Homo sapiens: one gene and its partners. The protein of the gene in region 2 interacts with the protein of the main gene of each other region in a pairwise test. Each region holds a gene or a part of one and is shown on either strand. Other genes may lie near its edges.

Evidence for each region.
Region 1: the proteins of CNNM3 (region 2) and AKAP8L interact in binary tests that used the Homo sapiens proteins (3 or more experiments, as listed by UniProt).
Region 3: the proteins of CNNM3 (region 2) and KRTAP9-8 interact in binary tests that used the Homo sapiens proteins (3 or more experiments, as listed by UniProt).
Region 4: the proteins of CNNM3 (region 2) and MTUS2 interact in binary tests that used the Homo sapiens proteins (3 or more experiments, as listed by UniProt).

What each region holds. Positions count from the first base shown.
Region 1 is NC_000019.10:15,401,977-15,409,007, forward strand, and holds part of AKAP8L (A-kinase anchor protein 8-like), read right to left. Parts: intron 2,067-7,031; coding exon 2,034-2,066; intron 1,740-2,033; coding exon 1,499-1,739; intron 1-1,498. UniProt on the Homo sapiens protein: Could play a role in constitutive transport element (CTE)-mediated gene expression by association with DHX9. Increases CTE-dependent nuclear unspliced mRNA export.
Region 2 is NC_000002.12:96,826,237-96,833,267, forward strand, and holds part of CNNM3 (metal transporter CNNM3 isoform 1 precursor), read left to right. Parts: intron 1-596; coding exon 597-746; intron 747-1,494; coding exon 1,495-1,664; intron 1,665-1,862; coding exon 1,863-1,959; intron 1,960-2,330; coding exon 2,331-2,464; intron 2,465-2,759; coding exon 2,760-2,898; coding exon of another isoform or gene 2,899-3,056; exon of another isoform or gene 3,057-5,732; coding exon of another isoform or gene 5,733-5,782; exon of another isoform or gene 5,783-6,315; coding exon 6,316-6,380; 3' UTR 6,381-7,031. UniProt on the Homo sapiens protein: Probable metal transporter.
Region 3 is NC_000017.11:41,234,166-41,239,524, forward strand, and holds KRTAP9-8 (keratin-associated protein 9-8), read left to right. Parts: upstream 1-3,833; 5' UTR 3,834-3,886; coding exon 3,887-4,366; 3' UTR 4,367-4,839; downstream 4,840-5,359. UniProt on the Homo sapiens protein: In the hair cortex, hair keratin intermediate filaments are embedded in an interfilamentous matrix, consisting of hair keratin-associated proteins (KRTAP), which are essential for the formation of a rigid and resistant hair shaft through their extensive disulfide bond cross-linking with abundant cysteine residues of hair keratins.
Region 4 is NC_000013.11:29,026,328-29,033,358, reverse strand, and holds part of MTUS2 (microtubule-associated tumor suppressor candidate 2), read right to left. Parts: coding exon 6,456-7,031; intron 1-6,455. UniProt on the Homo sapiens protein: Binds microtubules. Together with MAPRE1 may target the microtubule depolymerase KIF2C to the plus-end of microtubules. May regulate the dynamics of microtubules at their growing distal tip.

The DNA of each region.
Region 1 (7,031 bases), on a different chromosome or scaffold from region 2:
ACCCCAGCACCCTGCAGGATGCAGGCAGGTCCAGCACAATGAATGCGCAGCCAGTGAGGCTGATGATACCCATGGGAAACACTGTTCTTGTCCCTCATGGCTGGGGAACCTTCAAACTCTGCAAAGTCCCTCATTACCAAAACAACTGAGACAAAAGGGGGAGTATTTCCCAGGGAAGACACTGAGAGCTTGCCCAGGGACAAGAAAAAGAGCTGTATTACATCAACCCTGGAGCCCAGAGCCAGACACCAAACTCTATATACCCTGTATTGCAACTGGGAAGGCAGGCCAGACCTCCTCCCAGGACACAGAGGGCACCGCAGAGAGCTCTTTTAACCGTGACTGCAGCCCGCAGCCCACACCCCTACAGGCCTGGACCCCACACACCTCACAGGCACAGGGGCTCCCCTTGCACACTCTTCCCTAAACCTGGGCCACCAAGAGGCACCGGCAGCTCTAAGAGCAGCAGTTGGTGCTGCCGCTGCTCTGCTTACCCCGATCCCAGGCTCCAGGCTGTGGTAAGAAGGTGCATAGCAGCAACGCAAGGCCAAGCCTCACATGCCAAGCCCTCAGCTCTGAGTGCTGCAGCTGTTGGGCCAGGAGTTACAGAGCCCATGGCATCAAATCCCCTTGTGCCTGTTCCACACCCTGCCACCACAGCCCTGGGGCCTCCCTTGGCCCTATCAGTGCTCAGCCAGGCAACTCCTTACTCTTGGCTCTCACTCATCTGTTAGCTGGTGCTCCACTCTATCCCATGTTAGAGATACACCCACGCTCCTCACCAAAGCCTCGCACTGGGCATAAGCACTCCTGGGCCAAGTCCAGTTCAGTTAATAACAAATGCCCACAGCATGATGCTTTGGAGTAGGGCAGATCTGGTAGGCGAGGCCCAGCCCCACCAAGTACTTGCTGCGTGCCTTCAGGGTATGACCTGCCTGCACTTCTGTATCCCCACCTGCAAAATGAGGACAGCAGCAGTTCCTCACAGGAGTGCTTCCATCAGGTACATGTTTGTAAGGCACAGGAGAGTAACCAGGAAATGCCCACACCTGCCCCGACCCTTACGTGGGGGTGGCCCAGCTCGCAGTGATCAGCCCCAAACGCTCGTCCCACCCTTCACACCAAACTCCATCTGTCCTGCCCTGACACCACGCAGGAGGCAAAGTCTCGAGAGAATTCCAAATGGCTGTCCTTGGAGGGAGGGGTGGCTGAACACTCTGTTTTTGAGGGCACAGTGAAGTCTGCCCAGTCTGGGCTTGTTCCTCTCACCGCAAGCTGGGAAAGGCTGACCACCAGGCAGTGCGGCAGGGGTTGAGGGTGGGTGAGAGGAGACACAAGTCAGAGACGGGAAGTGCAACGGACCCTGCTGGGAGCCACAGCAGCACCAAGCAGCGGGGAGGAAGCAGACACAGAGGGGCACTCAGAGAGGAAAACGCAGTGGGCAGCAGGCAGGAGCCGCCCCTGCAGAGTCTCAACCCCTAGGCAGGTGTCCACTCACCTTTCTCCACCTGAGCCGTACACGCCTCCTTGCATCATGTCTGTCTCCAAATGCGGCACCATATCTAAGCGCTGGTTAATTCTGGATAAAACGGAATCGGCACTGGCGCTACCCGAGGCACTAGTGTTTGCATTTGTGTCAGAGCTAGGCATTTCCCAAGAGTGTGAAGTGGCCATACCATACCCATAGTTGGTGGTGTTATCCTGGCCATAGCCATAGCCATAGCCATAGCCCTCGTAGCCTGCAGTGAGGGAGACAGAGACAGACAGATGGTGGGGGCAGGCAGAGGGGAGGCAGACAGAGACAGAGACAAACACAGATACAAGGGTATCTTCTGTCACAGAGAGAGAAGACCCTAGCCACTGAAGCTAGATGGGCCCTGGTCATTCTGATGAGGGCCTCCTGTTAAGGAGTAGGTAACCCCAGAAACATGCCCCCTCCCCACTCCCAACCTTGGCCAAGCAGGGCAGTGGCAGAGAAACACAGCCAGGACAACCCCAAGGGACAGGACAGCAATCACAGGAATGACACTTGCCTCTATTTGTCCCAGAGTTCCAAGTTCCATATCCTACAAAAAGTAAAAGGGCAGTTACATCTATACTTGCTTACAATACAAGGCCATAATTCAGGCGCAGACAATTATTCCCAGGACCTGACTGGTCAGAGCAGGCTGCACCTCCCCTAACCGAGAAGCCTTGAGCTCGCGAGCACTGCGCAAATGACCCAGGCCACTTGCTGCCCTGGTGCCTGGCTGCCTGTGGCTCTGAGCATCTGTTATTTAAGGATCCTTCTGTTCCCAACACTCTCAACTAAGGAACTTGGCTCCTATACTCCTCCCTTTAAGAGCCAGAATTAGAAGGTGACCTCCACACCCCAAGCTAAGTGCTAATCAGTTTATAGCAGAAAACCCAACCCCAGTCTCCCAAGAGTCTGCCTTAAAAGGGAGGGCCAACAAGCCCTTGAATTGTTGACTGTGCTGTGCTGGAACACATCAGTGAGAGAAGCCCAAGAAGCAACCCCTCGCTTGAGAAAAGCTGTGGAGAGAACAATCTGGATTATCAACTTAATATGCTCTGGATTCAATCACAACACATGATAAAACCTCATTCCTTCAGTAACATAAAGCCACTGAGAAGTGACAAAGTGTAAAGTCCCCTGGGAACTCTGAGTCAAACACACAGTTCCTCCCCAAAGGAGGGCACAGAGCAGGTGACCCCTTTCCCTGGGTCTCTGGTGAGACCCAACAGTTGTTTCCCATTCCATGTCATCTCTGCCCCGCAGAGGACATGCTCATCCCAGGGCAGGGGACCGAAGCTCAGTGAGACAGACAGCAGGGCAATAAGTGGCAGAAGCCAGACCACAGCAGGAAGAGTGTAAGTCAACTGAAAAGATGAGCCAGAGAGAACAGGCAGGCTGTCGTCCTGCACTTGGGTTCCTCCACGACCCAGTGCACAAAAAGAATGGGAAGAAATCAGAGAGAAGCTGAGGAACTGCTGATGACCACTATGTTTAACAAGAGAGCTCACAAAACAAAAACTCTTGGGCTGGAGAAACCAAAACAGGCTTCTCATCCATTTGTTTATGTATCCCCTGAGCACAGGGAACAGAGGCTTGCAGTCCCAGGCACTGCTCAGGCATGGAGATCTGCCTGTTGGTAAGAGAGATGCTAACAGCCAGAGAGCAGCATGGGTAAGTCAGGAGTGGTAGCTGAGGAAAGAATGGAGCCATTCTAAGAGGCAAGAGAGGCTGGCAGAGCCACATAAAGAAAAACACACAAGGCTGGGTGCAGTGGCTCACGCCTGTAATCCCAGCACTTCGGGAGGTCGAGGCGGGCGGATCACCTGAGGTCAGGAGTTTGAAACCAGCCTGGCCAACATGGTGAAACCCCTTCTCTACCAAAAATACAAAATTAGCCAGGCGTGGTGGTGCACACCTGTAGTCCCAGCTACTCAGGAGGCTGAGGCACAGTTGCTTGAACCCAGGCGGCAGAGTTTGCAGTGAGGTGAGATCGCGCCACTGCACTCCAGCCTGGGCGACACGGTGAAACTCCATTTCAAAAAAAAAAAAATAGAACAACACACAGGTAGCCCAGGCAGCTACTGTACACCTGGCCAAGTGACTGTTTGTACCAGGGACAGTGGGCACTAGCTATTCTAAAGAAAATAGGAGTTGGGCGTGGTGGCTCATGCCTGTAATCCCAGAACTTTGGGAGGCCAAGGTGGGTGGATTACGAGGTCAGGAGTTCGAGACCAGCCTGGCCAATATGGTGAAACCTCATCTCTACTAAAAATACAAAAATTAGCCAGGTGTGGTGGTGCGCGTCTATGGTCTCAGATGCTTGGGAGGCTGAGGCAGGAGAATCACTTGAACCTGGGAGGTGGAGGTTGCAGCGAGCCAAGATTGCACCACTGCACTACAGGCTAGGCGACCGAGCGAGACTCTGTCTCAAAAAAAAAAAGAAAGAAAAGAAAAAGAAAATAGGATATGGAGGCAAAAGCAGATCCATCAGGGCTCTGCTTGGGAGGCTACAATGTGGTCACTGCAAGCTTCACCTGCTGAGGATCTGCCACAACAGAGTGAGGAGGCACAACGAAAGGAAGCAGCATCAACTCCGTGAACACCACTTTACGTTTTAAGGACAAGCAGGGCCTCCCACGATGGGCAACTCTCAGGAGTCCCTCCAGGCAAACACTCACTACATGCCACTTGCTATGCCTGGAGCAACCCAGACTCCTTGATGGACATCCCAGCTGGGTCCCTTCAGGAGGAAGCCTTCATCTAGACTGGCGTTTAGGGACTCCCCAAGACCTGCCCTTTCTGAAAGAACACCCCAACTCATTTCCATCCCCAGAAGGGATGAGATCATGGTTGACAAAAGAAATTTTAAGGAGAGAGAGAGAGAGAGAGAGAGAGAGAGAGAGAGAGAGAGATCCTTAAAATTTATATATTTATTATTATTAAATATATACATATATATGTAAAAATAAGATATATGTACATATATATTTTTGAGATAGAGTCTTGCTCTGTCCTCCAGGCTGGAGTGTAATGGTGTGATCACAGCTCACTGCATCCTCGACTTCTTGGGTTCAAGTGACTCTTCTGCCTCAGCCTCCGGAGTGGCTGGGACAACAGGCATGTGCCACCATGCCCAGCTAATTTTTTCTATTTTTGTAGAGATAGGGTTTTACTATGTTGCCCAGGCTGGTCTCAAACTCCTGGGGGCTCAAGCCTCCCATCTCAGCCTCTCAGAGTGCTGAGATTATAGGCATGAGCCACTGCACCTGGCCCCAAGGACATAATTTTTAAAAGAAAAAAGGACATGGTCACAGTATGTGATATTTATGGACCAAAAATAGAAAACAATTTAACACTCAACTTTAACGTAATAGTTAATCAGATTACACCTACCTACTCGGTGACATATCATGTAAGCATATAAAAAGAATTTACTATGCCTTATGTGGCACAAGGAAATGCTTCTAACATAAAATAAAGCAGGACCAGCCAGGCGCAGTGGCTCACACCTGTAATCCTTTTGGGAAGTGGGGCAGGCAGATCGCTTGAGCCCAGGAGTTTGAGACCAGCCTGGGCAACATAGCAAAACCCCATCTCTAGAAAAAATACAAAAAATAGCTGGGCATGGTAGGGCATGCCTGTAGTCCCAATTATGCAGGAGGCTGAGGTGGGAGGGCTATCTGTGCCCAGGAGGTGGAGGTTGCAGTGAGCTGAAATTGTGCCACTGTGCTCCAGCCTGGGGGACAGAGTGAGATCATATCTTAAAAAAATAAAATAAAATAAGAGCAGTACCCACAATTCTATCCACCTATAAATTATTAAACTACACAAAATCAGTAAGCTGATAAAAATTAAACATTAATATGGTAGGATCTTGGTTGACTGTTTTTCAAAATGTTATTTAAATGTTATATTGTTCTTGCAATTCAAGCCAGAAGGAAAAATAAATCCATCTCTATTCTTTCACAATTGTGTATGTAAAAAAATCTCAAACAAATCTACAAAAGAGCTACTAGAATAAGTGAGCTTAGCAAGGTTTATTACAAGGTCAATCTGTAAGTCAAATTTCAAATATTACAAGGTAAACCTACAAATCAAATAGCAATCAAATTTCTATATATCAGCAATGAATGGAAAGTTTTTAAAAGTACCATTTCCTATAGCACTAAAAGCATGAAAAACTTGGCGTAAATCTAACAAAGTATGTGTAGGATCTGTGTTGAAAACTACAAAACACTACATCAGTGAAGTGACATACTGCACTCATGAATCAGAAGACTTGATATTGTTAAGATGTCAATTTTCTCAAACTAATCTATAGATTCTACAGATTTGATAGATCTATAGATCCAAGGCTCTCTCACTCAAAATCTCAGCATGAATTTTTTAAAAAACTTCATAAACTGATTCTAAAATTTATATGCAAAAGCAAAGAAACTAACAATTTTGGAAAAAAGAACAAACCTGGAGGACTCATATTTCAAGATTACTATTAACCAGTAATCAAGACTGCATTGCTGGGCGAGGCGCAGTGGCTAATGCCTGTAATTCCAACACTTTGGGAGGCCGAGGCAGGTGGATCATGTGAGGTCGGGAGTTTGAGACCAGCCTGGCCAACATGGTGAAACCAGTCTCTACTAAAAATACAAAAAGACCGTGCTGCTGAACGAAATTTAGATGTACAGACCAATGGAACAGAATGAGAGTCCAAGAGTCCAGAAATAGACCCACAGTATATGGTCAACTGATTTTCAGTAAAGGTACGAAGGCAATTCAATAGAGAAAATATAGGCCTGGCACAGTGGCTCACACCTGTAATCCTAGCACTTTGGGAGGCCAAGGCGGGTGGATCACCTGAGATGGGGAATTCAAGACCAGCCTGGCCAATGTGGTGAAACCGTCTCTACTAATAATACAAAAATTAGCCAGGCGTGGTGGCACATGCCTGTAATACCAGCTATTTGGGAGGCCAAGGCACAAGAATAGCTTGAATCTGGGAGGTGGAGGTTGTGGTGAGCTGAGATCGCGCCATTGCACTCCAGCCTGGGCAACAAGAGCGAAACTCCATCTCAAAAAAAAAAAAAAAAGAAAGAAAGAAAGAAAGAAAGAGGCCGGGCGCGGTGGCTCACGCCTGTAATCCCAACACTTTGGGAGGCCGAGGCGGGAGGATCACGAGGTCAGGAGCTCGAGAACATCCTGGCAAATACGGTGAAACCCCGTCTCTACTGAAAATACAAAAAGATTAGCCAGGCGTGGTGGCGGGCAACTGCTCGGGAGGCTGAAGCGGGAGAATGGCATGAACCCAGGAGGCGGAGCTTGCAGTGAGCTGAGATCGCGCCACTGCACTCCAGCCTGGGGGACAGAGTGAGACTCTGTCTCAAAAAAAAAAAAAAAGAAAGAAAAAATGGTTTTGTTTTTGTTTTTGTTTTTTAAACAAATGGTGCTGGAACAATTATATATTTATATGCCATAGAAGAATAAGAAACCTTAACCTATACTGCACACCTTGTAGAAA
Region 2 (7,031 bases):
CGGTCTTGCTCTGTCATCCAGGCTGGAGTACAGTGGCGCATTCATGGCTTACTGCAGCCTCAACTTCCCAGACTCAAGTGTTCCTCCCACCTCAGCCTCCTGAGCAGTTGGGACTACAGGCGCATGCCACCACACCCGTCTAATTATTTTATTTTTTTGTAAAGACACGGTCTCTCTATGTTGCCTAGGCTGGTGTTGAACTTCTGGCCTTAAGTGATCCTCCCGCCTCAGCCTCCTAAAGTGCTAGGGTTACAGGTGTGAATCACTACATCTGGCCTAAATTTAAAAAAGTTTTTAGTCTACATCCAGTGACCTATCAGGGATGCTTGTTATTTTATACAAGCTGCTTTGTTATCATATCAGCATTCTCTTCAGCCAGCTCCAAGGCAGATAGTCACCCCTCTCTCTGTGTGGTTGGGGTGGGAGCAGGCCCCGTGGAGGGAGCGGTGCTGAGGACATGTCCCTGGCGTTCCGATGCTGCTCCATCGAGGACCCCCTGGCCTCAGGAGGAAGGAGCAGGCGATGCAGCCCCTTAGTGTGGTCGTGTTGACTGACAGGTGGCTGATGCCTGAGCGCGCCCTCTTCTTCCATCTTAGGAGACACCGTGGTGAAGAGGAAGCCTGCTTCTCTGATGGCCCCTCTGAAGCGGAAGGAGGAGTTCTCCTTGTTCAAGGTGTCTGATGATGAATATAAAGTAACAATCTCGCCTCAGCTGCTCTTGGCCACCCAGCGCTTCCTGTCCCGAGGTGAGGCGGGAGGGTGGTCCATGCCCCCTGCTCTCCTCACCGTTCTGTGGGTCAGGAGGCCGCCCAGGGCCGACACTGACTCTGCTCCCCACTCCTAGCAGGCGGGTGCGTCTTGAGGACTTCTGTGTTCTCTGCAGCCCTGCCAGCATCTTGGGTCATGGGAGAGACACCTCCTCTCTGCCAGATGACCAAGAGCAGGGCCAGGCCAGTGCCACGCCTGGTGCACCACAGCCAGGGGGCCTCAGCTCTCAGCTGGGCGGATGTGGGGTGCCCTGCCCAGTTCTTTTTTTTTTTTTTTTTTTAAAGATAGGGTCTCGCTCTGTCACCCAGGCTGGAGTGCAGTGGCACGATGTTGGCTCACTGCAACCTCCGCCTTCTGGGTTCAAGTGATTCTCCTGCCTCAGCCTCCCAAGTAGCTGGGATTACAGGCGTGTATCACCACGCCCAGCTAATTTTTGTATTTTTAGTAGAGGCGGGGTTTTGCCATATTGGCCAGGCTGGTCTCCAACTCCTGACTGCAGGTGATCCACCTGCCTCAGCCTCCGAAAGTGTTGGGATTACAGGCGTGAGCCACCGCACCTGGCCCCTGCCTAGTTCTCTTGTGTTGAGGTGTTAGGGGCAGCTGCTCACAGGCCACCCGGGAGATCCCTGGTGGGCACAATAACTTTAAATTGCCTACAGTGTTGGGTGTGGTTCCACTGGCCACTAGGCCCCAGTGGACACTGTCCCTTTTTTCCACCACGTGCAGAAGTGGATGTATTCAGCCCGCTGCGCATCTCTGAGAAGGTCCTGCTGCACCTGTTGAAGCATCCCAGTGTCAACCAGGAAGTGAGGTTTGACGAGAGCAACCGGCTGGCCACACACCACTACCTGTACCAGCGCAGCCAGCCGGTGGATTACTTCATTCTCATCCTGCAGGTAGCTGTGGGTCCCAGGCCTGGAGTCCCTCCTGCTTCCTCAGGCCAGGGAAGGGTCTAGGAGAAGAGGGGAGCAGGGGCATGCGGATATGCACCCTCCCACCCCAAACAATTGAGGTGGTGGGTTTCTCCTTCCGCTGTCTTCTGACGGGAAAGGTAATCTGGCCGCATCTGTTTCTCTCCTTGCCACTCCTCCCAGGGCAGGGTTGAAGTGGAGATCGGGAAAGAGGGTCTGAAGTTTGAGAATGGGGCCTTCACGTACTATGGAGTGTCGGCCCTAACTGTGCCATCCTCGGGTAAGCCACGGCCCTGCTGATGCTGAGGGCCAGGGTGGAGGCTGCAGAGCCTGTCCCCCATCATCACTTGGGCTCTCAGTGCCCCTCCTCACCTCTCCTTCCACCTGAGCCCACCACCCCACAAGGTGGTGTAGCCCCTGGGCTTCCAGGAGGGAGGGCAGCATTCTTCATCGCTCAACTTTGTGGCCCACTCCACCCCTGCAAAACCTCTCCCGGCTGTGTTTGTCCTTCTCTCCCAGCTTCCCATGCACATTGCCTCTCCAGAGTGATTGGTGGGGTGGGTCTTCGAAACTGTACAGTTGTCCCCACCAGGGGAGGAGGCTCCCAGCTGCCAGCATGGCTCCTGCCATCACTGATTGTTCCTTTGATAGTTCACCAGTCCCCGGTGTCCTCGCTCCAGCCCATCCGCCATGACCTGCAGCCCGACCCAGGTGACGGCACGCATTCATCTGCGTATTGTCCCGACTACACCGTGAGGGCGCTCTCTGATCTGCAGCTCATCAAGGTGACTGCCTGGGCTGCTTGTGGGTGCTGGCTTTAGCCGACTTTGTGTCACCGGGGGCTAGACCAGCTGGTCTGAGACTGCCCGGAACAAGGCCTTCCACTCATCCTGAGGGACACAGACCTTTGCACCCAGTTTCCAAGCAAGGTCTTAAAAACACTTGACTCAGTTGCTCTTCTCTGCCCTTAACTAGCTTAAAGTTGTGCCTCTGTCCTCTTCGGGCACGGTGTCACCTTTCCTGCCTACCTTCTGCATCTCGCTTCACCAATTGGGTCCCAGTAACGCTGTCATCCTCCAGGTTACGCGACTGCAGTACCTCAATGCACTCCTGGCTACCCGAGCCCAGAACCTGCCACAGTCCCCTGAGAACACCGACCTGCAGGTTATTCCAGGCAGCCAGACCAGGCTCCTTGGTGAGAAGACCACCACAGCGGCAGGTGAGTGCCAAGTGGTACATCGTGCATGGTGTCTGGACCTGAGGGCCGTGAGCTCACACACACAGACTTGCACTCTCGCCGCCCCCCCACCCTCTGTCTTTTTTCTCTCTTTTCTCCCCATCCTTTTCCCTTCTTTATATATATATATCTATATATAAATAATTTTTTTTTTTTTTGAGATGGAGTCTTACTCTGTTGCTCTGTTGCCCAGGCTGGAGTACAATGGTGTGATCTCGGCTCACTGCAACCTCCGGCTCCTGGGTTCAAGCAGTTCTCCTGTCTCAGACTCCTGAGTAGCTGGGAATACAGGCGCCCACGACCACGCCTGGCCAATTTTTGTATTTTTAGTAGAGATGGGGTTTCACCATGTTGGCCAGGCTGGTCTTGAACTCCTGACCTCAGATGATCCGCCTGCCTCACCTTCCCAAAGTGCTGGGATTACAGGCATGAACCACTGTGCCCAACCCCCTTCTTGCTTTTTTTTTTTTTAATTCATTATTCAACTTGAACTTCTTGCTGTCTTTAATAGCATGGATGACACCAAACTATAGACTAACTGGTATTTAGAGTAGAGTATAGTAAGTCGGTATTTCTCTCAAGGACGTCTTAGAATGGATTGACTTAATCAGAGATTTGTTGGGAAGTGGGAATAAGTTTTAGTTCAGACACTCTTTTGGCCATTTAAGATTAAGTTTAGGTCACTTTGAGTCAGCAGTGGCCCTGGCTTAGAGGGTGTGTGGCTGGCAGACACCATCCTAGACACTAGAAGGGCATTTGTGAAGAGTTTGGTCAGTTCATACTAATATTTAAGCGTGGCCCATCCAGTGCTCCACTGCGAGCAGGAAGATTGTGTTGGAAGAAATTTTGCAAATCGAACTAAAGGTTGTGGGATATGGAACCCCATCCCCACACTGCAAGGAGGGAGGTGAAAGAGTCTGAAGTGTAGGCTGTGGGTAGGAGTGGTGAAGGGTTTCTTGTTCTTGTTTTTCAAGAAGATACTTTAATTCTGATTGCGTTCCTAAGGTTGGGGTCAGAGATATGCCTGAACTTGAGATTCCTGGAAGAGCTGGTGGGGCTGTGGAGGGAGCTGCAGGCTTGCCTCCTCCCACCCCCACCTGCCCCACCACGAGGAAGACAAGCTGTTATCAGCACTTCCTCTGCCAGGCACTGTGCTAGGAGCTTCCATGTCTAACTCTGCTAACCTCCCCGTGGCCAGAGGGCTGCTAGCTGTTCTGCCTGTTCTACAGGGCAGGAATGAGAGCCAGAGAGAAGGCCCAGGGACTCTGACCTGCTTCCTGTAGGCCTCCCGTGGAGCCACTGTGGCTGCTCAGACCCACACTCGAGAGCACAAACATGTTTTTCTAATAGTCCTTTCTGAATTGTGAGGTCACATGCAGGTGCAAGGGACAGAAATCCCACCCTGGGCCATGTGGATGCTTCAGCCCCTGTGGGCTCCAGATCTGGGTGTTGGCAAAAAGGCAGCGGGTGAGGTCGTGCTGCTTAAGTCTTGGATCTGGGGATGGGTTGCATCTCTTCCTAAAGAGATCTCTCTAAGGATGGTGCTGCACTTTTTTTTAAGAGATAAGGTCTTGCCATGGTGCCCAGGCTGGCTTCATACTCTGGGCTCAAGTGATCCTCCTGCCTCAGCCTCCAAAGTAGCTGGACGAGTAGCTAGTGCCGCACCTTTTAGGGTTGTTGAGGCTTCTGTGCTTACCCACTGTGATGGTTTCTTATTGTATGGGGTGCCCCTTCTACAGAAGTTCACATTGTCACATTACACTGGGGTCTCAGAGGCCAAGGTTTTAAAAATGGGAGTCTTTTGGTTTTGGTTCTCCCACATGTGAGCCTTTTTCTGGCTCACTGCTACTCAGACTGCACGTGTTGTAGTGAAGATACAGACCTAATCCCAAAATAATGCTCTTCCCATCACTGCACACCCGGAGATTTTTAAATAATCTTCACTGGGCCGTCCTGTAAGAGAATAGTTGATAGTGGCTTTGTGGGTCATTTCCTCTTTGTAATGGATTATTCTCTAGACACAATGTTGGTTATTTTCACTTAAGTACAACCTGACAGTTGCTTCAGTGAGGCTGGCCTGCTGTCTTTCTGTTTCTTGCCTGAACTCGGGTTGTCCTGCATTTTGTCCCGTGAGCTTGGCACTTCACTGTCCGGAGGAGCGTAGGGCCGCTGCACACCTGGAGATTTTGGTGGGGCACTGCTTAAATCATGCAGATGAGAACCAGTTTCTGGAGACCTTGGCACTAGACGCCCAGCAGAGAAGTGCCTTTTTTGAGACTTGGAAGACACAATAATTTTAAATTGCCTACAGCAGGGGTTGGCAAATAGTGGTGCAAGGGCCACATCTGGCTAGCAGCCTATTTTTGAGAATGAAGTTTTATGAGAACCCACACATCTGTTTGTAGATTGCTATGGCTGCCTTTGAGTTACAGCAGTGGAGCTGAGTAGCTGTGACAGAGACTATATGACCTACAAAAACTAAAAATATTGGTCCTTTACAGAAAAAGTTGTCTGACCCCTGGCCTACTATTTCAAATCCTGGGTAGGTCCTCCACGTCAGTTCTTCATGGAACTGTATTGCCGAGGGAAAGGCAGTCCCCACACTGTGCAGCCCTCCATGCTGTGCTCCTGGCTTTCTCTGCCATCCTGAGCCGCAGGCTGTGGGGCAGCGCAGCACCAGCACTGCAGCTGCCAGCTCTCCCTCAGCTTCCCCTGCCCGGGGCACCGGCCCTCTCCATGGTGCTGCCCGGAGCCAAGAGGCACAACCATTTCTGCTCAATAGCTTCTCCTCTTCTTTCTCTCTCTGCTCTCTTTAGCCTTCCCAGTAGACCTTTCCCTCTTTGGCACAGTTGGAAACTGCAGTTGATAAATGACTGTGGACTAGTGCGCGTTTTTTGTTTTCAGAGCACACGTAAGGTAAATATCTTCCCTCTCCCTGCCCCTTCACTTCCCTTTCCTGGCCCTTCAGCTGAGGGAGGAGCAGAGCCCATGGCTCCCCAGGCTGGGGGGCATTTTTCTCCAGGGGTGTGGGGTGGGCGCTCCCTTCCATCCTTCTGGAAGACAGGAGGGGTCATGAGACTCCTCCACTGTGGAAAATGGTGCTTCCTTCCAGCACAGGGTGCTGTATCGTCCCGGGAAGGTGCCTCTTGTTCAGCATAATGACCTGGGACCCTCGGGGCCAGAAATCCACAGCCCCAGCTTCCCCGTCTCCCAGGGAAGGCATCTGTTGGCTGACCATCTGCTAACCAGTCGCTCCTGTTTCTGCTCTGATACTTCCCAAGGCATCCCGAAGCACCTGTCTTAGCTGCCCCTTCCTGTCCCACAGAGGATTTGGCACTTGGTTTTGACAGGATACTTTACCAGCTTTGATGTTAATTCTCCTTCCCTTGTCTCCTGTAGGGTCCAGCCACAGCAGGCCCGGCGTCCCGGTGGAAGGCAGCCCTGGGCGGAACCCAGGCGTTTAACGGCTCACTAGGCAGCCCCAGATCTGGGGAACAGATGAGCACGTGGGGAGCTGGAGTGAGCTGAGCAGAAGTTTTGTGCCCGCCTGCCCCCATCCCCTCCAGGCCACGTTTTAGATGGCCCTTGTAGTTGCGGGTCCTGGGTGTCCTCAGAACTAGACATCAATGCCTGGATCCTTCAGCCGGCCCTGCCCTCCTTTAGGAGACAGGAGTCACCAGGGCACAGCCCTCCAGGCCCGCCTCAGGAAGGAATGAAAGGAATGCCATCATCTCTAGTTCCCAGGGCCCAGCCTTCCCCTTCTCCCCCGGGGCAGGGACAGTGCGGCATATTCAGATTCAGACCTCTTTGGGCTGAGCCACCTTGTGAGTGCAGTTACTGCCTTTGTGTGGCCGTGACCTCTATTTGTTTGCTTTTAATTTGCCAACCTATCGCTGCTGGCAGCACTTTTTGAGCAAGCCGAGAGCACCCATTTTGGCTGGGGGTTCAGATCGATGGCCTTGTCCATGTTGTCCTTTCTGGCTTCCCTGATGGTGTCATGTTTCAGCGCATGCGCCCCAGCCTTTCCCATGTGCCAAACCAGAAGCTCCACTGCCCGTAGGCTGTCCCTGTAGCCCTGCTCCCTCCCTGGAGGCTGCTCTTCTGATTCTGAGAGC
Region 3 (5,359 bases), on a different chromosome or scaffold from region 2:
GGAATTGAGAAACTATGCAATGGGCATGTAAGACTTGGCACAACCCATAATCTCTGAGCTAAGGAAGGGAATAAAAACAACCTTCCACATTTTGTGAGGCCAATATGAAGAATCTAAAGAAATGAAAAACTTCTTTTTCCACGGAAATCAGAAGAATGTAAGAAAGGAGCAAGGTAGAACTTGTGCATTCATAGAAGACATAATAGACAGAGGTTGGTGCTTCGGGTCCTGAACTGATGTAAGATAACCATTCACTCATGAAAGGATTGATTGATGCTGGCTCTGAGAGAAATTGAAAAGTCGGGGACCTGGGGCACCTTCTTGGGGCCTCCTACCAGCAGGGGAGTGGTAGAAATACCTCTGATGAGCTAAAAATGTAGATTTCCATGACAGATGCCAACTTCCGAGACTGTGAATCTAGAATGCTCTGAAGACTTGGCTAAGAGACAACAGCCACTTACTGTCATCATCGTTCAGGGATGAAGTAAAGGAGATGAAAACTAGGACATTCTCTTTGACTAGCATCAGTTATGAAAGATGAATAAGTTCAGTAGGTCTAATGTACAGTAATATGACTATAGTTAAAAACACTTTATCATATACCTGAAATTTACTGAGAAGGTAGATCTTAAATATTCACACCAGAAAAATAAAAAGGAAATGGTAACTAAGTGACCTAATAAATATGTTATTCACAATCAATATATATATCAGAGCATCACCTTCTATACCTGAAATGTACACAATTTTTGTTTGTCAATTATACCTCAATACAGCTAGAAAAAAACGTATTTAGTTGATCTATTTAATTAATACAAAAATATTCTTATCTTCAACATAAAACTTGGGAATTTTCTGAACAAAAAACACTAATTCTGTGTTGCCTGCTCTATGATGGGTACTGGATAAATGCTTTGTGTACATTATTATTAACTATTTAACAAACTTTCAAAATAGGTATTAATGTTCCTCTTGTAGAGATGAGAAATTTGAGGCTGAGTTAACGTATAGTCATAGATGAGTTTCTCCCAGAAGAGACTCTGAAAAAAAATTCCAGTGAAACTAGTTTACTGGGAAGTGCAGATCATACTGGTAGGGACTGGGGAAGTGATACAGAAAAGGGTACACTATTAAGTCAGTTTCACAGTCACCAACTAAAGCTTAAACTAAAGTGAAAATTATCAGAAATGATGAAAAACACATAGCTGGTATTATCCTACTTCAGGAATGAGGAAGCTAGAGTCTTTATAAATCAGCTCTCCAGAATCATTGGTTGAGTGTTTTTCTCTGTATTGCATTCACAGGTGGCATGACTTTCTACAGCTGCAATACAAGAGCCCTTAGGCACAGAGATGCAGATTTTGACAGATAGAAATTGATCCAAGCACACTAACATGCAAGATATACGGGTGCAGTCATGAAAACTTGTCTACGATCTACAACTAGCTCCACTCAAGTCAAATATTTGCTACTTAAATAGAATGGACAGCCACAAGCTCTAGGAGAAAGAAGAAGAGGAAGAGAGGAAGCAGAGGAAGAGAAGGGACAGAAGATGAGAGGAGAAGGAAAGAGAAAAGAAGGAAAGAAAAACAGAAAGACAGAGAGAAGGAAGGAAGGAAGGACGGACAGGAGGGAGGGAAAAGAGGGAGCAGGGAGGAACCGAGGGAGGGAAAGGAAGGAAGGAAGGAAGGAAGGAAGGAAGGAAGGAAGGAAGGAAGGAAGGAAGGAAAGAAGGAAGGAAGGAAGGAAAGAGATCGAAAGAAAGAAAGAAAGAAAGAAAAAAGAAAGAAAGAAGAAAGAAAGAAAGAATAGAGAGAGAGAGAAGGGAAGGGAAGGGAGGGAGGCAGGAAGGGAGAAAAAGGAAGGAAGGAAGGAAAAGAAAGAAAGAAAGAAGAAGGAAAGGAAAAGAAAGGAGAGGAAGTGAGATATAAAATGAAGGCCAATTAAATAATCTACACTTACTTCTGCTATAATACAGTGCACCTAAGTTTCATAAACTCCGTTAATTACCAAGAGTTCTATTCTCCCTTCACCCCTGGCCAGCACTCTTTTTGGTCTAGATAACTGCTGATAGAGTAGCTCAGAGCATCCTTCCTGAAGGGTCTGAGCCCCTGGTTACTATACCATTGTCCACCGTGATTGCTGTTTTTATTCATTTGTGGTTATCACTGGGCATGGACACACTATGAGATTCTGCAGTGTTATGGGTTCATTTGCGTCCCTCAAAATCCATATACAAATAGAACCATCTAAAATGTTATCTGATAAGACAAGGTCATATTGGAAACAATTAGGCCTCTGATTAAATATGACTGTGTCTATTCACAAGGGAGAAATTCAGAGACAGTATGGATATAATAGAAAAATTATGTCAAACACACTTGGAGATGATAGACTTCGACACGTCAGGGAGGGAGACCTGGAACAGATACTTCCCTCGCAGTCTTCAGATGAAAACAACATTGCCAACACCTTAATTTCAGAAAAGAGGCCTTCAGAACTTTGATAAATAAATTTAAGCCACTTTTTTTCAGTAATTCATCAGGGCAGTGCTAGTAAATTAATATACTCAGTAAATCTCCTGAGCTATAGATATATTCTGCTACACTATATGGCTTGAGGGTAATTATCCCTCACCAAATAGTAACTACTTTCTCTGTCTGCTGCTTTGCTTATATGAAGAGTCCAAAATGACTAGGCGATAAAGATTACTTTTGTTTATGCCAAAGAAATAGAGAAGCAAATACTATACTTTTTATTCACATGAAAATTTTAAAAAGCCAAAAGTTACCTACAGGATTACAACTGATAGAGTGATTAGCTGTCTTTGGGAAAGAGTAAGAGCATATAATTGGGAGAGAATGGAATTAATTTCTATTTCCTAACATAGATGTAATGGGACATAAATGTATTTACAATATAATACTATATCAAGTTGAAAATTAATAGTTTGCATTTTCTCAAATGAATGGTATACCTAGAAAATGTTTTAAACATGTTAGAACTCCATGATGAATCAGGCATCATCTCAACTCATCTAATTCCTTCATTAAAAAGAAATAGAGAGAGAAGACATGATGCTTACTGTGCTGGTAACTGGGTTGCAGCTAGAGCCAGAGCACATGCTGGTTGGCCTGAATCTCAAGCAGTTATGTCATAGAGAGTCCTACATTCTCGTCCTGGAATCGCCACACTCACAGACAAGTCAGAATGAATGGTCACTCAGGGCATAGTTTGCTTGATGTTGTCTAAATCCCAGTGAATTTCTCTGCATCCCCCTGCTCTCGATCTGCTCTGCCACATGGAACACACTGTGACAGACACCCTCTTCCCAAGTGACGTTCAAATAACGGAAAGGCACAGGTGGTGAGGGTGGTACAGAGAGATGCCTGTTAGTCTTGAGTCAGAATTTGGTGGGTGACTAGCCTTGGGCCCAGGCATGGATTCATTTTGTCACTGTAAATATATCAGCATCATGCTTCTCCCCACAGACACTTCCCAGTCTATATACAGCCAAACATGAGGCTGGCCAGAGAGCTTCCTGAGCCTCCCAGATCAACAGGAACTATCACATGACTAGATGATGGTCAGAATAGGAATGATGCTGATGATGAGACGGGCTTCCTTTTATCTCAAACAAAGTGTCTATGAGTAATTCACAATTAAGAAACAGATTAAACCTTAATCTGTTTAACCTTAAGGAAACAACTACCCTTTGAGAATCACAAACGGACTGTGGAAAACAAGATAAACAGCAACAAGGAAAAGTCCTGCTGATTGGTGGAAACTTTGGAGGCCAGGTGTATAAAAGGTCCAGAATGCAAGGGGTCATCAGATTCTGGGAAACTCACCTCTGAACAGAACTCCACCCTCTACCCCTGACACCATGACCCACTGTTGTTCCCCTTGCTGTCAGCCTACGTGCTGCAGGACCACCTGCTGGAAGCCCACCACTGTGACCACCTGCAGCAGCACACCCTGCTGCCAGCCCTCCTGCTGTGTGTCCAGCTGCTGCCAGCCTTGCTGCCGCCCAACTTGCTGTCAAAACACCTGCTGCCAGCCCATCTGTGTGACCAGCTGCTGCCAGCCTTCCTGCTGCAGCACACCCTGCTGTCAGCCCACCTGCTGTGGCCAAACCAGCTGTGGGTCCAGCTGTGGTCAGAGCAGCTCCTGTGCACCTGTGTACTGCAGAAGAACCTGCTACCACCCCACGACTGTCTGCCTGCCTGGTTGCCTAAACCAGAGCTGTGGCTCCAACTGCTGCCAGCCCTGCTGCCGCCCAGCCTGCTGTGAGACCACCTGCTGCAGGACCACTTGCTTCCAGCCCACCTGTGTGTCCAGCTGCTGCCAGCCTTCTTGCTGCTGATCACGTTCCAAGAGAACCACCATCCTCACACAACAAATTTCTGCTCAACTGACTCATCTTTTGGGGGACTAATTTAATTTGCTGCTGACAGCCACCATGCTCTCACCCAAATTTTTATGAATTCTCTACATGTTTAAAATCTTGGAAATCTGCTTGAGGGAGGGCAGAATACTTCATCCTGATTCTCTTTTTCCTTACACCTTGTGGATCATGTGCCAGCTTCATCTGTTCTCAAGTTTGAGTCATGGTCTCAGCTTTGACTCTAAAGTCAAGAGCTTCATTCCCTGCTTCTAAGGAATTTAGGTTTCTGCAACTGATCGATGATCTTTGCAATCTTTTTTTTGTTTTCAATATCCTCCTCATCGTTCTTGTATCCTTCTTTCTTCTTTTCATGATAAATTTGTGTTGTGTCCCTGGTAGCAGAAATCCTTACCTATATGTTTCTGAATAAATTCTGAACCATCCTCATCTCATATAGTGTTTTGTTTTATTTGAAAGCACTCCTGATATGGGATTTACACACATATCACATACCATAGTTATTATCCAATTTGATTCTCAAAACAGGTGGTCATGCATTATTACCTTCATTTTTCACCTGAAAAAAAATTAATATGTGATGTTATGTAGCTAATAAAGGACAGATTCTGATCCAAGCTGAGGTCCTCTCTTTCTGCCCAAGGACACTTACATTTAACTCTCAACATAGTAGAAATGACATTGGAAGTCAGCACTAGCAAGACATGCACTTGAGTTTATTTAACAATGAGAGGAATGATCTCTTATATTTGCAGATAACATTTTTGTTCACAAAAAAGTTTTCCCAAATAAGTTTCCCACACCTCAGTGAGCAACAGCTGCATGATATGGCAGCAGGGACTGCATTTAATGGCTGCCCTGAAAGCAGGGATCTCTTTTTGTCTCATCCTCTGACCAGTCATTCATTCAATTCATCTGCATCAAAAAATGCTTGAGAATTCATTGTGGACTCAT
Region 4 (7,031 bases), on a different chromosome or scaffold from region 2:
TAGGGAAGTTAATGGAAAATGTATTTTCAGATCTGTACTATGTGTTTACCTAGTTAAAAACCTGAGCCTGAGTTATCTCCTCTGGTCGTCTGCTCGAGTGAGGCGATGCTCCCAGGAAGGTTTGAGCAAGTTTCACCAGAATGGAAGTTCTAGGGCACAATCTCATCAACCGCTGACTTCATAGCACCAAAAACAATGTCTAGCACATAGCTAAAGTCAATAAATATTTATTGAAGAATCATGTTTCCATTTTTTCCTAAGTTTAATAATAACATAACGTTACTGTCACTTTCTCCTGTAGCTAGCAGTTTGGCCTAGAATACAACCTGTGGGCAGTACCTTTTATATATGCAATTCTGTACTCACTAAGTCTGTTCATATTATCAGTGTTTTATTAATATTAAACAGGAAAAAAAGAGAGAGAACTAAATAAACTATTCCTTTAAGTTACAATAAAAAATAGTGCTAAGGGCCATGCATGAAAAGATACATCTGTTAATTAACTCTGTTCTAAATCACAGCACATTTTATGTGTCAAACTTATATCTCAGGAATCATAAGCATTTAACAGTATTCTTTAATGGGGGCTATAAAAGCTTTGATCCAAGCTGTTGAAGAGATAAACCCTTAAATTGATACTCATTTAATGTTGAAATAGATACAAAGTCCTCCTTCAAATTGACATTGTAGAAACAAAAGATTAGGCCTTTAAAGTTTTATCATAATCACACTGTAAAATATGCATGACTGTTATAGTAGATAGTCCTTGGCTATAGCAAATTATATTCCTATGAAAGAACATTCTACATCTGCACTCTGATAAATTTTTTACCATTCTCTACTTACTCTCACTATCAATCTCTGGTTTTTCTCATATATACCCTTTTTTAATTTTAGTTTCTAAATTTTGGGTCCCATTGCACATTGCTTTGAGCAGGTGCTCTTATGAAGAAATTAATATCATTTCCAAACTACATCTGTCAGGTTTTAGGATTGCAATATGCTGATCTTAGTAGTTACTCAGTGCCTTGAAACTGAGTTGTTTTTAGGGATTAAAATTCACCACATTCTCTCTCAACAATGATCTTAAGGATTTCAGTAACTTCAATGCCTGTCATTTTGTTGGGTAATTTGTTTCTGGTGAGATCGCAAATTCTTTAAAAGGGGGAAAACTGCGCCTTTGATGTCTAGTCTGTGCATTTTTAATTAAACAAGGGAATCTACAGAAAGCTTCATACTCTTTTCCTTCATCTTTACTGACAGAATACAGCAGGTGATGCTGCACAGTCATAAAACAACGTTTGGAAACCCCAAACGTTGCTGTTCCCCTCCCTCCATCCCAATGGAGGGTTTTTAGAGAACTCACTTTGAAAGCAAACAAAAGAACCCTATGATTTCAAACAAACTCGTTAAGTCAAGGCATATGAACAAATACATTCTTACCAGGCTGTCCCTCTTCCTATTTGCCCTGCACTGTCCTCAATGGGATAGTGTGCCGTGGAGACAGAGGGTACAGGTGAAGGCTTTGTTAACAAGCCACTGGGATAGTGGTGGGGGAAGGGTGTCTGGGATGGTTAATTTTATGTGTCAACTTGGTGGGGTTGCAATACCCAGATATTTGGTCAAGCATTCTAGATGCTGCCATGAAAGTATTTCTTATATTAGATTAACATTTAAATCAGCAGACCTTGAATAAAGCAGCAGACCCTTCAGCATGTAGGTGAGTCTCATCTAATCAGTTGCAGGGTTTAATAAAAACAGACTGACTCCTCCTAAAGAAAAGGGGATTCTGCTAGTAGATCACCTTCAGACCCAAGCTGCAGCACCAACTCTACCCTAAGTCTCCAGGCTGCTGTCCTGCCCTGCAGATTTTTGACTTGCCAGCCTCTACAATCATGAGCCAATTTCTTAAAATCAATCAGTCAATCAATCTCTCTCTATATATATATATAGAGATTATGTGATGTACCCTCTCTATATATACATCTATATCTGTCTCTACATATGAGATATATATATTGAAACATATATAGATAATATATATTGAGAGACATAAGTATAGATGAATATAGACCTGTGAACACACACCACACACACACACACACACACACACACACACACCTATTAGTTCTATTTGTCTGGCAAACCCCAATCGATGCAGTGCCCCCCAGAGATGAGTGGCAGCAGACAGTGAGGAAGGAGAGCAGCCCTGGATCACACCTCTGTACACTGCACGCACATCGCCTCACTCCATCCTCTCAGCCAAGCCCCTTTCTTCCCACCTCCCTTTACCAAAAATAAAAAGGGCTCCCAAGTTGTTGGAGGGAGGGAGTGTCCCTGAGACCTCAGGAGAGCCAGTGGCAGAGGGCACCTGTTTAGGTAAACATATTTAATACCTGGACATGACTAGATCCCAGATGATCTTGGAAGCCACTTCTGGAAGTTTTAAATGCCTGTGCTGTTCCTGCCAATTGGGAAAAGAGTTCCTCTCTCAGAAGAGTGCTTACTCTTGATTTTTCCACTTCTACCCATGCTATGTAACCAGCAGGGATCTGTCGATAAGGATGGAAGAGTCTGAAGCTGGTTTGAGTTTTTATTTTTAAGAGGTTCTCATTTTATTTAAAAAAAAATCTGGCTTCTATAACTGAAAAATACTTCCATTGCAACACATTATCAAAAATGTGTTCTTTTCCTAGAGACCAGACTGCAGCCACCCCATGATGAGCTTGGGGCACACTGGCAGAAGAAGTCGGCTGTTTTTTCTCCCTGCACTGAGCTCAAACACAAGAGGGGGACTCGCTGGGTTACATCATGTCATAGCTGTAGCAGGTGGCCAAGGACCAGCCTGTTCCCCACTTTTGAGTAAAGAAGGTTACCACAGAAATGAGCCCAGCGCAACCTGAGAAGAGGCCTGGGTCTCGTTCTGATGATGGCAGAAAATGGTCCCCAGATACAGGGAGGGAAACTGACATTTCAAACGAACTTGTAAAGTCGAGGCCCAAAAACAAATAAATTCTTTGAAGAAGACTTTGGGATGCTCGAGGTGCGAGGCCATGATGCTCTCTCCACACCAGTGGGGTCTCTCTGAACCCCTCAGAACCGCCAAAGCCACACAATGTCCATACAATCCCATTTCCTTGAGTCTTGACGTGGTGCCTAGATAATGAAGTAGAGAAAATAGTTTGGGGAAAACTATGCATGTAATATATAAACTATTCTTGGAGGAAGCAGAACAACACAGAAAAGAAATATACACGAAAATATAGAAGGGCACAAAGAAAGAATTACAGACAATGTGGGGTTTGGGCCTACATATCCAAATCAATTTCCCTCATGAGTTTGTTTTTATAGAGAAAAATCTAGGCTCTGGCTATGGTTTGGATATGGTTGGCTTGTCTGTGCCAACTCTTATGTTGAAATGTGATCTCCAATGTTGGAGGTGGGGTCTAGTGGGAGGTGTGTGGGCCATGGGGGCAGATGCCTCATGAATGGCTTGGTGCCCTCCTTTTGGTAATGAGCAAGTTCTTGCTCTATTAGTTCCCATGAGAGCTGGTCCTTAAAGAGAGGCCTGGCACCTCCTCCACTCCCCTCTTGCTCATCTCTCACCACGTGATCAATGCACACGTGGTTCCCCTTCTTCTTCCCCCTTGAGTGGAAGCAGCCTGAGGCCTCACCATAGGCAGATGCTGGTGCCATGCTTCCTCTCCAGCCTGCAGAACCATGAGCCAAATAAACCTCTTTTCCTTATAATTTACCCAGCCTCAGGTATTCTTTCATAGCAACACAAATGGACTGACAGGTCTCTTCATGGAACCTCTGCAGTGATTCCCTGCCTTATAGAAGAGCAAAGCTTCAGAGCCTGACCCTGAGCCTCAGAGGCCCAGGTGGATGAATGTTTAGAAATTTGAAAATGACTCACTATAACTAAACTCAGAGACTGACGTAAAAATCCAGAAGGGCAATTTGTTCACTTTTAATTGGAGACCACTGCCTAAAGCCAGACTCAAGTGTCCTCTAGCCAGAACACGTTCTCATTGCAGGGCACAGAGTAAGAAGCCACTTATAAACAAGATGCCATGCAGCCCCGCACAGCAAGACAAACCCCTGCCAAGCTGACTGGACCCCTGAATTCTCCAGCCAGAATCCTCTCTCTAGAGATGTGAGGTAGGAAGTCCGTTATAATCAGAGGCCTGTTGGCAGGCCCAGAGTCAGAACACAGGGAGCAAGCTGTGTGATTTGGTTGCTAAGGACCTGCGGCAAGGCAGCACAGCTGGTCGGCTTGTTGGGGCACCTCGTCAGTGATTGCCTAAGTCAATGTCTGCTGCCGAGAATGGATTCAACTTTGTCTTTGTGCTAGATATGACAACTTCTGTTGTGATTGATGCATTCTTTAAATATGCCAATATATCTAACCAAGCTAGAGTCCAAATTTGGACTCAATCATCCTATCTCTAGAAACCCTTGGTACACTTTTGTTTAGTTCCAACACATATGGAGTTCATGATTCAGTTATCACTCAACATTTTTTGAGCACATACTTATAAGAAGCACCATTCTAAATTCTGGGAACACGGGGAACAAAATATTGAAAACAATCCCTTCCCTCATGGAGTTTACATTATAGTCAATTCAGGAAAACTAAAAAAGTATTTATGGCAGGTGGAGGTAGGTGCTAGGAAGAAATAAATCAGAGAAAAGGGATTCAGAGAGAAGATGGGTGGCCTTCCCAAGGAGATAACATTGGAACACAGACCTAAAGGGAGTGAGGGAGAGAGCCATCTGGATAACTGGGAGAACATTCCAAGCAGAGGGAGGTGCAAAGGTCCTGAAGCAGCAGAGTGAGAAAGGGAGAGTGGAAGGAGAGGAGGGCAGGTAGCTGACGGACCCCCAGTGAGCACATCCCATCCTAAAGGCAGAGCCATCCTACAGGCTCCAGCTTGTGTTCCAAGCAACCTGGGCAGCCCTGGAAGGTGTTAGAGACAGGATGATCTCATCCTGCCCTTGTTTTTGAGACTGAGTCGCGCTCTGTTGCCAGGCTGAAGTGCAGTGGCGTGGTCTCAGCTCACTGCAACCTCCACATCCTGGGTTCGAGCAATTCTCCTGCCTCAGCCTCCCCAGTTCCTGGGACTACAGGCACATGCCACCACACCCAGCTAGTTTTTGTATTTTTAGTAGAGACGGGGTTTCACCATGTTGGCCAGGATGGTCTCGATCTCCTGACCTTGTGATCTGCCCATCTCGGCTTCCCAAATGCTGGGATTACAGGTGTGAGCCGCTGTCCTTGGCTCCTGCCTTACTTTTAACTGATCACTCAGCTGTCATGAAGAGACTCCTTCAGGAGACAAATCTTAGTTCTGAGGTCTCGAAGGATGACTCACCATAGCTAAAAAGGACAGCACAGTGCAGTCTGAAACTGCACAGGCCTGAGTGAGACTCTCAGAGCTCTCCTTCCTTTGTGGTGGGTGACTTAAAGCTCTCTGTCTGTCTCTGTATCTATACGGTGATAAAAACTGCAATACCGGCTGGGCGCGGTGGCTCACGCCTGTAATCCCAGCACTTTGGGAGGCCGAGGTAGGCGGATCACGAGGTCAGGAGATCAAGACCACGGTGAAACCCCATCTCTACTAAAAATACAAAAAAGTAGCCAGGCGCGGTGGCGGGCGCCTGTAGTCCCAGGTACTAGGGAAGCTGAGGCAGGAGGATGGCGTGAACCCAGAAAGTGGAGTTTCCAGTGAGCCGAGATCGCGCCACTGCACTCAAGCCTGGGCGACAGAGCGAGACTTCATCTCAAAAACAAAGAAAAAGCCAAAAAAAACATAAACAAACAAAAAACTGCAATACCAACCCTCAGGGAATTACTGCAAGGATTAGTGAAGATTAACAAAGATCAAACGCTGTATTATATGGGCCCAGTGTAGAGCTGGCCCTCAATTATATGTTAGTTGTAATTATTACTTTTATTTTAAAGAAAGAGTCCATGCCTAACACACCGTTTTCTGCTCATTTGCTGTTCTTCACGCATGCGAATAAGAGATACTCCCAGGTAGAAAATACTCCCCATTGAGGAATGAGTCTGATCTATTTGAAGAACACAGTAATTTTGCATTCTTTCTTCCTTTAACCTGGCTTATATTATATTATATTCACTTATTTAAACATGGAAGCCTATTTAAGGCATACTCATCTAATTTCATATGAATTATAGCAAGTGAAATTTAAATGGGTCTCCTTAGATATTGGGTACATCTTATTAAGATAATCAGACTCTTCTAGTTAAAAATGGTCATTTCTCTAGACAATCTCCTCTAGTCAAAAACTCCATTTCTTCACAAGTGTATCCATGAAAATCTGTAATTCACTTAAAGAGGACATTTTACTTTCATAACTCATTGAAAATATGTCACAGATATTGGGACAGTCAACTTATAGACCATATCATAATGACATTCTCTTACCTCCTGCAAAAACTTTTCACTCATTTGACTGAAAGGATGTCCCGGGGGCTTGATTCCAGACACCATCAATCCGGAACTGAAGACCCTTGGCTTCTGCAGGTCTGGCTTGAATTTCTCATAGAGGTTGGCAGATGGCTTCAGGTCACCACCTGCTGCCTTCTCTTCGTGGGGAAGAGGCATGGTACATGTGGGCGGGGCATATGGAAGCCCCACTGGAACCAGCGAGGCGTCCACCTGGCCCAGGGCCTGGGGATTCCTCCTGATGTAGGTGATGATCTTGGGCCTCACATGCTTGGGCTTGGGCATAATGATGGGCTTAGTTTCTGTCCTCTCCTCTGTTTTTTCAACCTGATAGTTCTCCATTCCCTCCTGCGAGGAAGGTGTGTCCTTGGAATGTGTGAAGACAGGCTTGGGGATCCCACTGGGGCAAGTGTTCTTGTCAGGCACTTTGGGGGACGTGTTCAACAAGCGTGCACTATCAGTAGGGGGTGGAACTACCAAGGGGGACCCCGCATCCATACCGAACACGCTAACATCCTGAAAACTGCTACTGGGTGTTGTAGGCTGGTAGGTCAT